Homo sapiens: one gene and its partners. The protein of the gene in region 4 interacts with the protein of the main gene of each other region in a pairwise test. Each region holds a gene or a part of one and is shown on either strand. Other genes may lie near its edges.

Region 1 (3,500 bases), on a different chromosome or scaffold from region 4:
TATAGTATTCCATAATTCAAACTTGTAAGCCTTAAGTACAAAGATATCTGAATTATACATAAGTCAAAGTTCATTAAGGTGTTCCCCTTACCCCAATTAGTCTAAATTAGTACACTTGCAAAGAAATCTGAATTAAATGTCAGTCAATAAAATTCACAAAGCCAGAAGCAGTTTAGTGCTCACAAGTTTATATTTTTAGGTTTGAATAAAGATTCTTGTGTATTTTCTAAATACACAGACAAAACAGTTCCGGAAGTTTACATACATGTCTTAGGACACTTATATTAGGTAGGTAATTTACATTTTAAAAAGTTGGTCTTCGTAAAAGATCTTCCCAAAGAGCTTTTACAAACAGCAGGCGGAAGTGTTCTTTTGTTTACAGTGTTCAAAATGCCAATGCTCCCACTAAATAATGGCCTCAACCATCTCTCCTCAACCCAAAATATTGTTCTCAATAGCTAGTGTACTCCAAATTTAAGTACCCAATGTCATAAAATTTAGGGCTAGAAAACATCTTTTGAAGTGTGCTTATCCCTAACACATTTTAAACTATCTAGAATTCTTTAACTTCAGTTGAAAGCAGAGATACAGCAGGAAAAAAAAAAAAACTTTCCATTTTAAGTCCTAAAGTGACTAAACACCTGTTAGTTCTAAGTGTGGATATTATGTACCATAGTTAAGTTTAAGGATCTGGGTGACTGAACGGCACAAAAACTGGGGTTTCTATCTAGTTCTTCAGATAAAAACCATTCTTTTATAAAATTAAAATGCCACAGCCAGTTAAGAGCATGTGCTACACTGATGTGTCTTAATATAGTCAAAGTGACAAAACAACTGCTTTATGAAGAAAGAGTAGTAAGGAAATTTATTGGGGGGAGGAAAGACACTCAAAATTCTAAACACAGCTGTCTTATAGGAAAAATATAATCCATAGACTCCATTAAGAGCTGAAATTCTACAAGAGTTGTTTAATGAGGCAGCAATAGAGCCTCCCTGAAAGAGTATGGGCTTCAGAATCAGACGTGGTCAAATTCGAGCTCTGTCACAGCTGTGTTAAATTAGCCAAGTTTCTGAATTTCTCTGAGCCTTTCCTCATCTATAAAATGGAGACAATTAGCACCTACCTTATAGAGGATTAAGGTAAAATCATGTATACAGCACAACGGCAAGTGTGGGCACTCAAAAAAAAAATTGGTAGTTTTTTTAATCGTTTTTCAGAAAAATGAATCTAAACCCTTCATGCTATGTTCAGAAAATCCTAAAAAATATAAATAAAGCTTACTAAAGTTTTAAAAATTAAGATTTTTAAACCTATTTTCCATCACACTTTCCCCCGTATGATACTACTACAGTGATATTCAGGCCGTTTACACCATTTTGTATTAATATAAATGCCCAAGTCCTAATCCTTTCATTTCCTATTTTCTCCTTCCTTTCCCCCATCTTTTCTTATTTCTTTTTCCTCTTGGTTCTTATCTATTATTAAACAACTTTAAGATGTGTTATGCACCTATTATGTACCAGTGTTCTAAGCACTTTACATGAATTAACGCATTTAGCTCACTCTTCTCCATTAGGATAGCTGTACCTAACCCAGCTAGTGTGTTTTCCCCAATTTCAAAGCTACTCATTACTGTTCAGTTTCCCTTTCCTATAACGTTTCTTCTTTTTTAAACTCTTAATTGCTAGTGTGCTAAATTTAGCAAAATATCTAGTAAATAAGAAAAATGAACAGGGGTCCATATGGAAGTATCTGTCTCTGAGAACTCTAATAATGCACAATCTTGATTTATGAGACGGTCTGTAACTACAGAGTGAATATGAAAGAAAGTTTATACTCTTCCCCTTCATTAAAAGCTCTAAAATACTTTTTCATTTAAAATATAAATTACAAGAGACAACTTCGCCAAATGTGTAACATAATTCTGCCAGAGTTCCACAGACAAAATTATGAGTATTTCATTGTTACCTCTGAGACCAATCATAAGTTCTTAGTATCTATCAACTTCCTGAAATTTTACTGTAAGTCAGAAAAAGAATACACTTAAAAAAATAGAAATGTCCAGTAGTATACCTTAGTACTAAAACTATTTTTTTAAAAGATCTAGATGGGAAAAGGCAGTCCCTCGAGATCATGAAACAAAATAAGTTAGGCAGTCAGCAAGTAGAAAAATCTGTCAATTCTGTTTCCGGTAAAATGTTTACTTCAAAGAAATTTTTATATAGGCTGAGGCTAATATATTCAAGAGTATAAACACTTTTCCTTTGGATTACCTAAAAACAAACTTTTAAAGTATCATATTTCAATTGACTAAAAATATAGCCAAATCTGTCACAACACAACATAAAGTAATGGACAATTATAGAATATTTTAAATTAACAGTAACAAGCCATCTACATCAAACCTTATTTCCAACTAAAACCAAACAAAAGCACAACAATCCCGTAGTGTACCAAGTGTGTATTTCAATTTACTGTATGCAATCTAACAAAAATTTGGTCATAATTTACCAGATATACATAAATGATTTAAGTAGTAAAAGAAAATTCAGCTTCAAGAGAGTAAGTTCATATCTTGAGGAAAAGTAAAAGTACATTAAGAATGTAAAGCCAAGTCCAGTTTCTATGCAATAAGTGAACTGTAGTCTAATAAAGCAGATTTAGGTGATTTTTAGATATATATCTTTGTTCTTTAATATATATTTATATATAGACAGATCTACCAATTGTAAACTAGTTTATTTAAAGGAAGGGGATAAATGGGATGAAAGAAATCTTTATACTATACTTACATATTCACAAAGAACATTTTACGTTTAAAATACTTTTTCATTCATAGTATCTTTGCCCAACTAATTTCTACCAGAAATACATTTTACTCATTTGTCTAGAACATTAAGAAGTACTCATCTGTTTTAAACAAAAATCAAACCGAAACTATTCTTATCTGTCAGGTTTACAGTTATGTAGAAACTACAATATAGATGACAAAAGATGCATCTAACCATGTAACTGTAATTTATCTTTGATTTATCCAAGCAGAAACATCATTGTCTAACAATAAACCATTATTCTACTGAAATCAGAGACAATGATAAAGCTTGTCTCTTAAAAAACATCAACTTTTCAACTTTGATCAGATGGAGCACCAAAGGGATTATATCTGTCAAAGCATCTTTGCAATTTTTTCCACATAACTAGCATAATTTAGTTACCTGATATAAAATAGGAAAATATACTCAATTTTTATTTAAAAGAAAGCTGAAAATATGACATCCCTCAATCTTATATAATATACAATATGCTAATAAATGCCATACATGTTAACAATACGTGAAATGCTGCTGAGAGTTCCACAATCAGCTAATTCATGTCACCAGGCTAAGTAAATCTGACAATTTCACCTCAATATGTCACCCTTTGTACCCTGAAGAATTTATAGAATAATAAAGCTTCTCAGAATTTTATTTGTAAGATTTTTGAGACTGTTGAATCATGG
Region 2 (3,500 bases), on a different chromosome or scaffold from region 4:
TTTTCTTTTCAGACCCAGAGAAAAGATGTGAGATCAAGACAGCAGCCCAGGGATCGAGGATGGAGGGACTCTTGAGCGTCGCCCTCCAGGGCGCAGAGTTGGAAGGAAACTGGAAACACGAGGGCCAGGTTGAGGACCTGCAGGAAAACCAGGAAAGCTGTCCAGAGCCAGAGGCCGTGGCCTGCAAGGGAGACCCTGCTGGGGACAGCATGCAGGAACGCGATGAATTCAGCCGAATCCCAAGAACCATATCGAGCCCTGCTGCTACCCAAGCCAGTGTCCCCGACGACAGCAGTTCCCGGAGGTGCAGCGCGCCTGGGGAGAGCCCGAAGGAGAGGCATCCTGACAGCCGCCAGCGGGAGAGAGGTGGAGGCCCCAAGAAGCCGTGGAAATGCGGGGACTGCGGGAAGGCCTTCAGCTACTGTTCAGCGTTCATCTTACACCAGAGAATCCACACCGGGGAGAAGCCATTTGCGTGCCCCGAGTGCGGCAAGGCCTTCAGCCAGAGCGTGCACCTGACCCTGCACCAGCGCACGCACACGGGCGAGAAGCCCTACGCCTGCCACGAGTGCGGCAAGGCCTTCAGCCAGGGCTCGTACCTGGCGTCCCACTGGCGCACGCACACGGGCGAGAAGCCGCACCGCTGCGCCGACTGCGGCAAGGCCTTCACGCGCGTCACGCACCTGACCCAGCACCGGCGCGTGCACACGGGCGAGCGGCCCTACGCGTGCGCCCAGTGCGCCAAGGCGTTCCGCAACCGCTCGTCCCTGATAGAGCACCAGCGCATCCACACCGGTGAGAAGCCCTACGAGTGCTCCGCGTGCGCCAAGGCCTTCCGCTTCTCCTCAGCGCTCATCCGCCACCAGCGCATCCACACGGAGGAGAAGCCCTACCGCTGCGGCCAGTGCGCCAAGGCCTTCGCGCAGATCGCGCACCTGACCCAGCACCGGCGCGTGCACACGGGCGAGAAGCCCTACACGTGCCAGGACTGCGGCGCGCTCTTCAGCCAGAGCGCCTCTCTGGCCGAGCACCGGCGCATCCACACAGGCGAGAAGCCCTACGCGTGCGGCCAGTGCGCCAAGGCCTTCACCCAGGTGTCGCACCTGACGCAGCACCAGCGCACGCACACCGGAGAGCGGCCTTACCCCTGCCACGACTGCGGCAAGCGCTTCAGCAACCGCTCCCACCTCCTCCAGCACCGCCTCGTGCACACCGGTGAGCGGCCCTACAGGTGCCTGCAATGCGGGGCCGCCTTCAGCCACGTGTCCTCGCTTATAGAGCACCAGAAGATCCACACCGGAGAGCGGCCCTACAAGTGCGGCGAGTGCGGCAAAGCTTTCAGCCAGGGCTCCTCGCTCGCCCTGCACCAGCGCACGCACACGGGCGAGCGGCCCTACACCTGCCCCGAGTGCGGCAAGGCCTTCAGCAACCGCTCCTACCTGATCCAGCACCACATCGTGCACACCGGGGAGAAGCCCTACGAGTGCAGCGGCTGCGGGAAGGCCTTCAGCTTCTCCTCCGCGCTCATCCGACACCAGAGGACGCATGCAGACAGTTCGGGACGCCTTTGCCCAGCTCCCACGCCTGACTCAACACCTGGGCTCTCACAGGGAGGAGAAACCTGTCAACAGGGGTGCCCTGGCAGAAACCCGCGTGGACCAGCAGAAGATTAAGAGCTGAGGGCCTCCTTTCCAACCTCACAATGCTATGGGGGAGATACTGTGTTATCCCCGACGCTTCCTGTGAGGAAACCGAGGCTCAGAGAAGCTTGTTAACTTGCCTGAGGGCACACAGTGGGGAAGACACAGGGCTAAGACTGTACCTCACATCTGCCAGACTCCCCTGCGGTCTTCCTGGTGCAAAATTATAAATGGGGCACGGGCAAGTAGACCTGCAGAAACACCTATGGCTGGCCTTTAATTTCTTTCTTTTTTTCTTTGAGACAGTGTCTCTCTCTGTCACCCAGGCTAGAGTGCAGTGGAGCGATCTCGGCTCACTGAAACTTCTGCCTCCCGGGTACAAGTGATTCTCCTGCCTCAACCTCCCGAGTAGTTAAAATTACAGGAGTCTGGCTAATTTTTTTTTTTTTTTTTTTCTGAGACGGAGTCTTGCTCTGTCGCCCAGGCTGGAGTGCAGTGATGCAATCTCGGCTCACTGCAACCTCCGCCTCCCGGGTTCAAGTGATTCCCCTACCTCAGCCTCCCGAGTAGCTGGGACTACAGGCGCCCGGCCACCACACCCGGACTAGTTTTTTTGTATTTTAGTAGAGGCGGGGTTTCACCATGTTGGCTAGGATGGTCTCGATCTCCTGACTTCGTTATCCACCCGCCTCGGCCTCCCAAAGTGCTGGGATTACAGGCATGAGCCACCGCGCCCAGCCTAATTTTTGTATTTTTAGTAGAGGCAGGGTTTCACCATGTTGGCCAGGCTGTCTCGAACTCCTAACATCAGGCGATCTGCCTGCCTTGGCATCCCAAAGTGCTGGGACTACAGGCCTGAGCTACGGTGCCTGGCCAGCTGGCCTTTTCATTGTTGATTTTATTGAGTAAGCCCTTGCTCAGTAAATTTAATTGAATTAAAGTGAATAAAAGGTTTGGTTTCTTTGGCCAAGTTGGCATATTTACTAAAGGAGCAGAGTCTGAAGAAGAAATCTGGATTCACTAAGATAGAAATAGTGCTTAGAGAAAATGAGCAGGAGAAATCTAGAGCTGAAAGTTATTCTAGAAGAAGGGAGTGCTTCTCCTCTACAAAAGATTTTTAGAGTGGGCCTAGTCTTTTTTTCAGTATGAGGAAACACCTACCCATCTCCACCATTTTTCCCCCTAACTCAAAGACCTGACTTTAATGCTTGTATCAGTCAGCTCTTGCTGTGTAACAAACCATCCAGCCCTCATTTATCCATTTACTATTTCTCATGCATCTGGAGGTCAGCTGCTGGTTCTGTTGGTCTGGACCAGGCTTGGTCTGGACCTGGACCAGGAGGGCTCAGCTGGGCCAATTTGATCTTCTTCTCCTGACTCACATCTCACCTGGGTGTGTTCTCAGGGAGGTGGCAGGAGTCTGAGAGGGAGTGGACACACAGGCATGCTTTCAAGTCTCTGATATTGTCACATTTGCATCTAGTCCCACAGGCCAAAGCAAGCCTCCTAGCCAAGCCTAGGATCAGCACAGGAAGAGCCTTCCTAAGCATGTGGTCCCAGGGAAGGGTGAAAAGTAGGAGTTATGAACGTAATCCACCTACTACAATGTTGAATTAAAGTTATAATCTCATAACTTCACATGACTATAATCATTGGAAAATTATTTTATGGGGGAATACACTCATGTAGTCCACAATTTATAAAGTTAAAAAAAAAAACTGTTCTTACTCCTGTGTCTCCCAGCTACCAAGTCCCCCTCACTAGAAGCAAATGCTTACTATATGTAAGCATATATATGAATATTTATATGCATAGAATATTCTGGAAAGATATATAGTACACCTTTCTTCACAAATGGTA
Region 3 (4,224 bases), about 42 Mb from region 4:
CTGAGCCCAGGAGGTGGCGGTTGCAGTGAGCCGAGATTGAGCTGCTGCACTCCAGCCTGGGTGACAGAGTGAGACCCTGTCTCAAGGCAGAAAAAAAAAGAAGATTCAGCAATGTTTTGGTTTGACTCTTCCCATGGTAGAGATGGGGCAATGAGTTGCAGAACAGAGAGATGAGGTGCCTTGAAGTCTTCTTTGCGGTTTGTAGACTAATATAGAATGTAGGGCACAGTCTACAAGGTTAACAGGAGAAACAGGGAAGGAACGAATCCTCTGCTAGGTGCAGCTGTTGGAGCTCTTTTGATGAAGGACTGGAGAGCTAGGAATTCTTGGTCCTCAGGAGGAGGAGGAAACTGCCTGGGAGACTTCTGGGATAGGCAGCCTCAAATGCAGCTTGGAGGTGATGATTCATGGTACACCATCTTGTACAGTTTTATCTTCCCAACAGGACCATGAGCTTGTTGAAGATAAATAATGTGCATTGTGTTTCTTTTGAATTCCCACAGGACTAGTCACAGGATGGACATGGTTGGCACTTCCTTAATATTACTTGATTGTATCAGAAAGAGGGGAGCCTCAATAGACATTTACTCAGCACTTACATATACCGGGCATTGCGAAAGTTTTCACATGTGAATATTCATTACAAACCCCATTTTACAGACATGAAAGTTGAGGCACAGAAAAGTTTCATGGCTTGCTCAAGGTCCCACAACTATGAGCAGGTCTGAGATTCAAACCCGAGTCTTTCTCCTCTCACAACCTCTCTTCCCAGGAGACAGAGCACTGGCTGGCCTTGAGAGTCACATTATATTGCAGTGGGCAGGGCACAGGCACACATACACTCCAGAAAACCATGTGTGACCTACACAATAGACACGGAAGCTTAAGAGCAGAATAAAGGGGCAATCAAAATGGGGTGGATTCCTAAGGAAGATGATTACAGAGCGCGACCTTCAAGGTTTGGAAAGACAGCTTGATGGGGCTTGGGGAACCAGGCAGTAGGTGCTGAGAAAATGCTTAGGGAATAGGAAGCACCCCAAGGAAACAGTGAAGTGTAGTGGCTTGTATTAACACAAGATGTTTGGACAGGACGGAGTTGGTCCCAGGCCTAAGAAAGCGGTTTAGAAATGAGGCAGTGTTTGCTGAGTCCTTTACAAGATGCATCATTAGCACATGACGGAAAGCAATTAACTTGCTTCTTACTCATATGCTGATCAAGTTGCAACTGGAAAGGAGTTTGCACGTTGTGGGGAGGGGGTGCCAGGGAACCAGCCAGTGGCCCTTACACCATTTCCCGAGGGATGCCGAGTGTGAGCTCAGGGTTGGCGGATGCCCAGGGAATGCCATCAGAAGGCCCTCTCCACTAGCAGTGCCCCGCCCCCACAGGATGCTCATAAAAGCCACGAGACCAGGGCTCTCCAGCCACCTGTCTTCTCCACTGCCTGTACCAGCCCACCTCAGGTGCCTTCTCGCCGGCCTTCCTCACCCACCATGTCTCGGCAGTCCTCCATCACCTTCCAGTCTGGCAGCCGCAGGGGCTTCAGCACCACCTCGGCCATCACCCCGGCAGCTGGCCGCTCCCGCTTCAGCTCTGTCTCTGTGGCCCGCTCTGCAGCAGGGAGTGGGGGCCTGGGAAGGATCAGCAGTGCTGGGGCCAGCTTTGGAAGCCGCAGCCTCTACAACCTGGGGGGTGCCAAGCGGGTCTCCATCAATGGGTGTGGCAGCAGCTGCCGAAGTGGCTTTGGTGGCAGGGCCAGCAACAGGTTTGGAGTCAACAGTGGATTTGGCTATGGGGGTGGAGTTGGAGGAGGCTTCAGTGGCCCCAGCTTCCCCGTGTGTCCCCCTGGAGGCATCCAAGAGGTCACTGTCAACCAGAGTCTCCTGACTCCTCTTCACCTGCAAATCGACCCCACCATCCAGCGGGTGCGGGCCGAGGAGCGCGAGCAGATCAAGACCCTCAACAATAAGTTCGCCTCCTTCATCGACAAGGTAAGCAGGGGCTTCATCCACCCCCTTGGGTTTGGGATCAAATAAACTCTTGGAAGGGCCATCCCATGGGGGGAGAGCAATAATGCAATGACCCCACTGTGGGAATGAGCACTGTTCAGCACGGGCTCCCAGGGGCTGAGACCCTTCCAAGTCAGGCCAGCTTGCCCCACAGGACCTGGTAGAAATTTCCTCTCTTTCGGAGCCACATGGGCTGGTTCAGTCAACACCAAGGGAAGAGTTTTGTTGATTCTCTACAGGAGAGTTGCTGCTCAGCAAACTACCCTAACCCAGAGTAGGTGGTGTTGAGAAACTTAACCCAAGAGCAGCTCCCCAACAGAAGCCTCTAGGCCCCACCACCCGAATCCTATGCAAGCCCTAGGGAACTTTGCGGTAGCTCCATGGACTGCCTCCTTTTGGGTTGGAGTTGTCAGTTACATTATTGTCAATGGGTGCCAAGTGAAAAAAATATCTTTTTCTTCTCTCCCTTATTAATAGGAGTGTCTAACTCTGCCTCTCCAACTTCTCAAGGTTTCATTCTCTCTTCTTCCCTCCAGGTGAGGTTCTTGGAGCAGCAGAACAAGGTCCTGGAGACCAAGTGGGCCCTCCTGCAGGAGCAGGGCTCCAGGACTGTGAGGCAGAACCTAGAGCCCCTCTTTGATTCCTATACCAGTGAGCTCCGACGGCAGCTGGAAAGCATCACCACCGAGAGGGGCAGGCTTGAAGCTGAACTGAGGAACATGCAGGATGTTGTGGAAGATTTCAAAGTCAGGTAAGTGGGAGACTGGCTTCTGGCCACACACAGCCATCTGAAGGCTCCTTTGTGTGAGGACCAGAGAGGTGCAAAGGAGCAAATGCCGATATCAGCCGGGAGCTTTGGAACTGCAGCCTTTATCCTGCAAGGTGGAGACAGCACTGTGTGGGGTAGCACAAGGACCTTCATCTTGTGTATTGCTATGAAGATCCTATTCCTATTTGTTCACATGACTGCAAAGGGATATCAACATCATCCGACAAAATATTGCTACTCACTCTAGAAATCATAATGTAATTTCACAGTCAGCATATTGTTTAATTCCATTGGACATGGGCTCAATTATTGAGATGGTTTGCATTTCCAGGATGGCATTCACTGTAGAGTGAAGAGAGGTAACAAGGAAGAGTTTAAAGGAGGGCAATCTGACTTTTCTTGTGGGGGGAAACTTTTGACTGCACATCATCCAGGCTGCAGTAGGTGAGGTATCCAGTGGAAAGGGATTTGGTCCAGACTAACCCATTAGCCAGCTTGCCCTTATTTCTAAGCTTGAGCTACCCCTAGTTACAAAAAGCATATTTCTCAGGGGCCACCCTGAGGTTCAGTGAAAATATATCAAAATCTACCCGAAACAGCCTGCTGAACAGATAAAGTTTACTCCACGATTTCGGTAGACACTTGAGGTGGAAAAACATTTTAGATTAGCATTGCATATCTATCAAAAGATGGAGTTGCATAAGTATATTTTTGTATTCCTTTAAGTTCCATGCTCACCTTCTACTCTTAGAAAAGTTTATTAAAAACTAGCAGAAGAAATTATCCCCCTTTTATGGAGGGAGAAATAGAGGTTAAATGAATCACCCAAAGTCATGCCCAGGTCAGCAGAAGAGCTGGAAATGATTTGAGGGCTCTTAACTCTTGCTACACCAGCCTGGAAAGAGTTCAATGCAGACTTGCTCAACAGCACACCCCCCGCTCTGTCCTTATAGGTACGAAGATGAAATTAACAAGCGCACAGCTGCTGAGAATGAATTTGTAGCCCTGAAAAAGGTGAGTGGGGATGTTTCTCTCAAAGGAGAAGGTTTAAAATGGAATCTGGAGTGTGGGGTAACCTGACCTCTGACCCTTGGGCCACCCAAGAAATGTCACATCAACCTTGAGAATATCTGCAGAGTTCAAACCTCCCAACATGTTCCCTCTACGTTGATGGCCCCATTAGCCCTACTTGGGTTTCTGTGAGCTCAGGGAATTCAAGCCCCCAGTTCTCCGTAATTACCCATCCCCAACCCCAAATCACCCAGACCCAGAGTTTTCTAAAATCCAAACTAGATGGGCTGGGGAGAAATCTGCTCAGCTTCTTTTGGACTAGATACTTGGGGCTGCAGACTCAAAGGAGCATCCTGCGCTGTCATTCCAGGACGTAGATGCTGCCTATATGAACAAGGTGGAGCTGGAAGCCAAGGTCAAATCTCTGCCCGAGGAGA
Region 4 (3,458 bases):
TGAATGTCTTTTTTTTTTTTTTTTTTTTTTTTGCATTTAGCCCATTTTCTTCAAGTCTGTGTTGAATTTAAAAAAGTACATCTAAGGCTATATTGTAAAGAAGAAGGCAATTTATAGATTGAAAGAGTTTCCATTTAAATTAGATACAGTGTTTGCATCCATAGGAATGAGAAAGTTCAGAGAACTAACCTTGACGTGAACTACACTTGCATTTATTGATTTATTGATTTAGGGACAGAGTCTCGCTCTGTTACCCAAGCTGGAGTGCAGTGGCTTGATCTCAGCTCACTGCAACCTCTGCCTCCCAGGCTCAAGCGATTCTCCTGCCTCAGTATACTTGCATTTATTACAGTTCACCTTATAGATCTTGTGATGACACAAGTTAACCACTTGTGGGTATTTGGATCTCAGTGTTGCAAAGGCAGAATACAGTGTTTGAAAGACAGGTAATGATGAGAAGAGGGAAAAAATGTATGTGAAAGGAAAGGGCAAGAGATGAAGAAAAGCAGTGTAACAAGGATAAGTGATTCTGTCTCCTCTACTTTTGGAATCAATTAAATTTTTCTATATTCCTCTATTTGGATATTCAGGGTTTGTAACTCATTTCTTTCTGAGTTGAGGGGTGACATAGGTGGGCATTATCTCATTTTATTATGATTAATTTTTAGGCTTATGTGCACAAGAGTGTAATGGAAGAACTGAAGAGAATTATTGATGACAGTGAAATTACAAAAGAAGATGATGCTTTGTGGCCTCCCCCTGATAGGGTTGGCCGACAGGTTTGTATTTAGTGATTCTTTAAGTGTATAAATATTAAAAATTGATAATACTATTTTGTTTCCCGTTATTTATTTGGAATGAGTCTAAGTTGATTCTTTGGCTTTCTATTTAATAGGCACCTGGTAAATTCTCTTTAATTTTATCTCTTAGTTCTGTTTTTCTGTGCTACCTCCTAGTAGTGAAGGAGTCAGTGCATAGCTCTAAATTTAGACATCTTTCTCTGTAGTCACCCCAGCCAACGTTAGGATGTTTTCACAATGCAGTGTTATGAATAATTTCTGTTGTGTGTTAATCACTTTTATTAAGAATATGACTATGTAAAATTTATTTTTGCCAAATCATAACTTCTAAAATTCTTACTTGCATCCCTATACCCCAGAGAGAAACTTGATTGGTGGTTTCTTTGTTAAAACTGATGATTGCATTTCCCTCTCATATTCCTTCAGAATAAATGATGTTTCTCAGGCTTCTGAAGAACTCTGAAGGCCTAATTTCACTCTGTAAAAAGAAAGTTTGGTTTCTGAATTGGGTCTTTTCAACTCTTGGAGAAATTCCTTCAACAACCCCTGGAAGGAAGAAACATTTAATTTCACTTTTGTATATCCCTGAGGATTGTACTTTGTATCACCTTCTTTGAATAGAAGAAAATGTGGAGAAATCTAACACATGCTGACACTCTGTAGGAGTAACTTAAGTCTTCTGCTTAAAGAAGCATTATTTAGAAAAGCAAAGGTAATAGTTAACAGTATTTATTTTAAGCATCGTATCACTTTTAAAAAGTAAATTTAGGCCTCAGTTTGTTTTATGCAGATACACATATGTACTAAAAAGCAAACCACAGCAGCTAACCTTTTATATCATTTAGACTCAGGGAGAGCCTAGTATTTTATCTATTCACTTAAGGATGTGTTCATGGGTTTTGGTTAGTGGGGAGGAGTAGGCATGCTTCAGAAATTGCCTTTTGTATCAAGTCAAAGGTTTTATGGCTGTTAGAGCATCTTAGCTAATTCTCCATTCTGTGTGTGTCATAAACTGCATAATTAGGCCTCTGATTAAATAAATAGCTAGGATTGTCTTCAATAGTGTCTGTTAACTTGAAGATTCATTACAGATATAGCTTTTTAATTATTGGTTTTAGGCCTGCAGATAAACAATATAGGGAAAAATCTATACAGTAATTACAGCACACTAGGAACATCTACATTAGGTTGGTTTTTTTTTTTTTTTTTTACTAGTTCTTAATTTTAGTTATTTTGTGGAGTATTAGTTTTGAAGTCTTACCATCTTGGGATCAAATATAAGTACCATCATTATTAGTGGTTATAAATATCAACAAGTATTTTCTTCTGCTCTATGAGTTTTGGATTACACATTTGTAAAATAGGTTAGTAAGGTTATTTTCAAGATTACAGAGAGTACAAAGTCCCTACCACTAGGGCCTGACATACAGTAGGTGCTAAAGTGGTGGTGGTTATTAATATTACACATTTTATTTGTAGAATCTTCCAGAAAGAAAAAATGTGTATTTATCATATTAAAAATGGTCTTATACTCCAATCATTTTTACAACATGTGCTTCAAAGTGATGTCTTTAGTTTTTACTGACATTGTAAGAAATATTTCTTTGTCATTTTGTTTCATAGTGTCTTCTTTATGTCTCTGGAAAGCAATTCTTTGTTGGTCCTAAACTTGGGGGTAGTGCGCGTGAGCAGTCTTTATTTTAAGGATATAGTTTATATCTAAGAAACCATGTTTCTTTCCCCCTCGCCCCCCACTCCCTCTGTTGGCTGCTAGAAAACTTGCAACTAAAATTGGGATCTGCTTGTAGCAAGAATACAGATACCTCTGGGATAGATTTTTATATTAACTACATTTTTCTGCTATATTTTTTAGGAGCTTGAAATTGTAATTGGAGATGAGCACATATCTTTTACCACATCAAAAATAGGTTCTCTTATTGATGTAAATCAGTCAAAGTAAGTATGTTAAAGCATTTTGGCGAAGTTTTCATTATTACAGAGGCTCATTTTAGAACTATAGTCAGTTTGCTAGCCAAGATAATTTCAGTGGCATCCTATCAGTTTATTATGCAGATGTAATCCTGATTTTTATGTCATTAAAGGCTTATTATCTTGTCTCTCAGTAGAAGTTAGCAGAGTATTTCATTGATTGTCCAAAAACTTTTAATCCAACAGCTGTATATAATAATGCCCAAGTTGTATTAGCTACTTTGTATAAAAATGTGGATACAGTATCAGCAAATCCAAAGGAAAGAAATCCTTATTGGATTATGTCAGCCTCATTAGGCCTATATCATCTCACTGTCCTTCTTGGGCTCAATACTTGGGAAAAAGATGGAAAAAATCCATTATGGCCTAAGTATGCTTTAGCTATCGATGTCTTCCCAAGATCTGTCTCTCCTCTGCCCCAGGGTTTTGTAGCACATCCCATTTTCTTGGTCTGATCCTAGCCACTTATTTTTATTTGTGCCCATTCCCCTCAAAGTGTCCCCATAGTGCTCTTACTTTTTTCTGTCACCCTGAATTGTAATAACCTATTTGTCTGCTTTACTGGTTTGAATGTAAGCTCCTTGAGAACCTTGCTGTATCCACAGAGTTAGCATAGTGCCCTGCACATAATAGATGCTTTCAATAAATATTTGTTAGTGGAAAGGAGAA

What was found. The genes of interacting proteins can lie anywhere in the genome.
Region 1: the proteins of MAGOHB (region 4) and ZBTB10 interact in binary tests that used the Homo sapiens proteins (3 or more experiments, as listed by UniProt).
Region 2: the proteins of MAGOHB (region 4) and ZNF835 interact in binary tests that used the Homo sapiens proteins (3 or more experiments, as listed by UniProt).
Region 3: the proteins of MAGOHB (region 4) and KRT75 interact in binary tests that used the Homo sapiens proteins (3 or more experiments, as listed by UniProt).

The regions. Positions count from the first base shown.
Region 1 is NC_000008.11:80,520,726-80,524,225, reverse strand, and holds part of ZBTB10 (zinc finger and BTB domain-containing protein 10), read right to left. Parts: 3' UTR 1-3,500. UniProt on the Homo sapiens protein: May be involved in transcriptional regulation.
Region 2 is NC_000019.10:56,661,758-56,665,257, reverse strand, and holds the end of ZNF835 (zinc finger protein 835), read left to right. Parts: intron 1-12; 5' UTR 13-59; coding exon 60-1,673; 3' UTR 1,674-3,278; downstream 3,279-3,500. UniProt on the Homo sapiens protein: May be involved in transcriptional regulation.
Region 3 is NC_000012.12:52,431,572-52,435,795, reverse strand, and holds the start of KRT75 (keratin, type II cytoskeletal 75), read left to right. Parts: upstream 1-1,424; 5' UTR 1,425-1,491; coding exon 1,492-1,989; intron 1,990-2,543; coding exon 2,544-2,758; intron 2,759-3,729; coding exon 3,730-3,790; intron 3,791-4,157; coding exon 4,158-4,224.
Region 4 is NC_000012.12:10,607,152-10,610,609, reverse strand, and holds part of MAGOHB (protein mago nashi homolog 2), read left to right. Parts: intron 1-668; coding exon 669-779; intron 780-1,226; exon of another isoform or gene 1,227-1,512; intron 1,513-2,673; coding exon 2,674-2,756; intron 2,757-3,458. UniProt on the Homo sapiens protein: Required for pre-mRNA splicing as component of the spliceosome. Plays a redundant role with MAGOH in the exon junction complex and in the nonsense-mediated decay (NMD) pathway.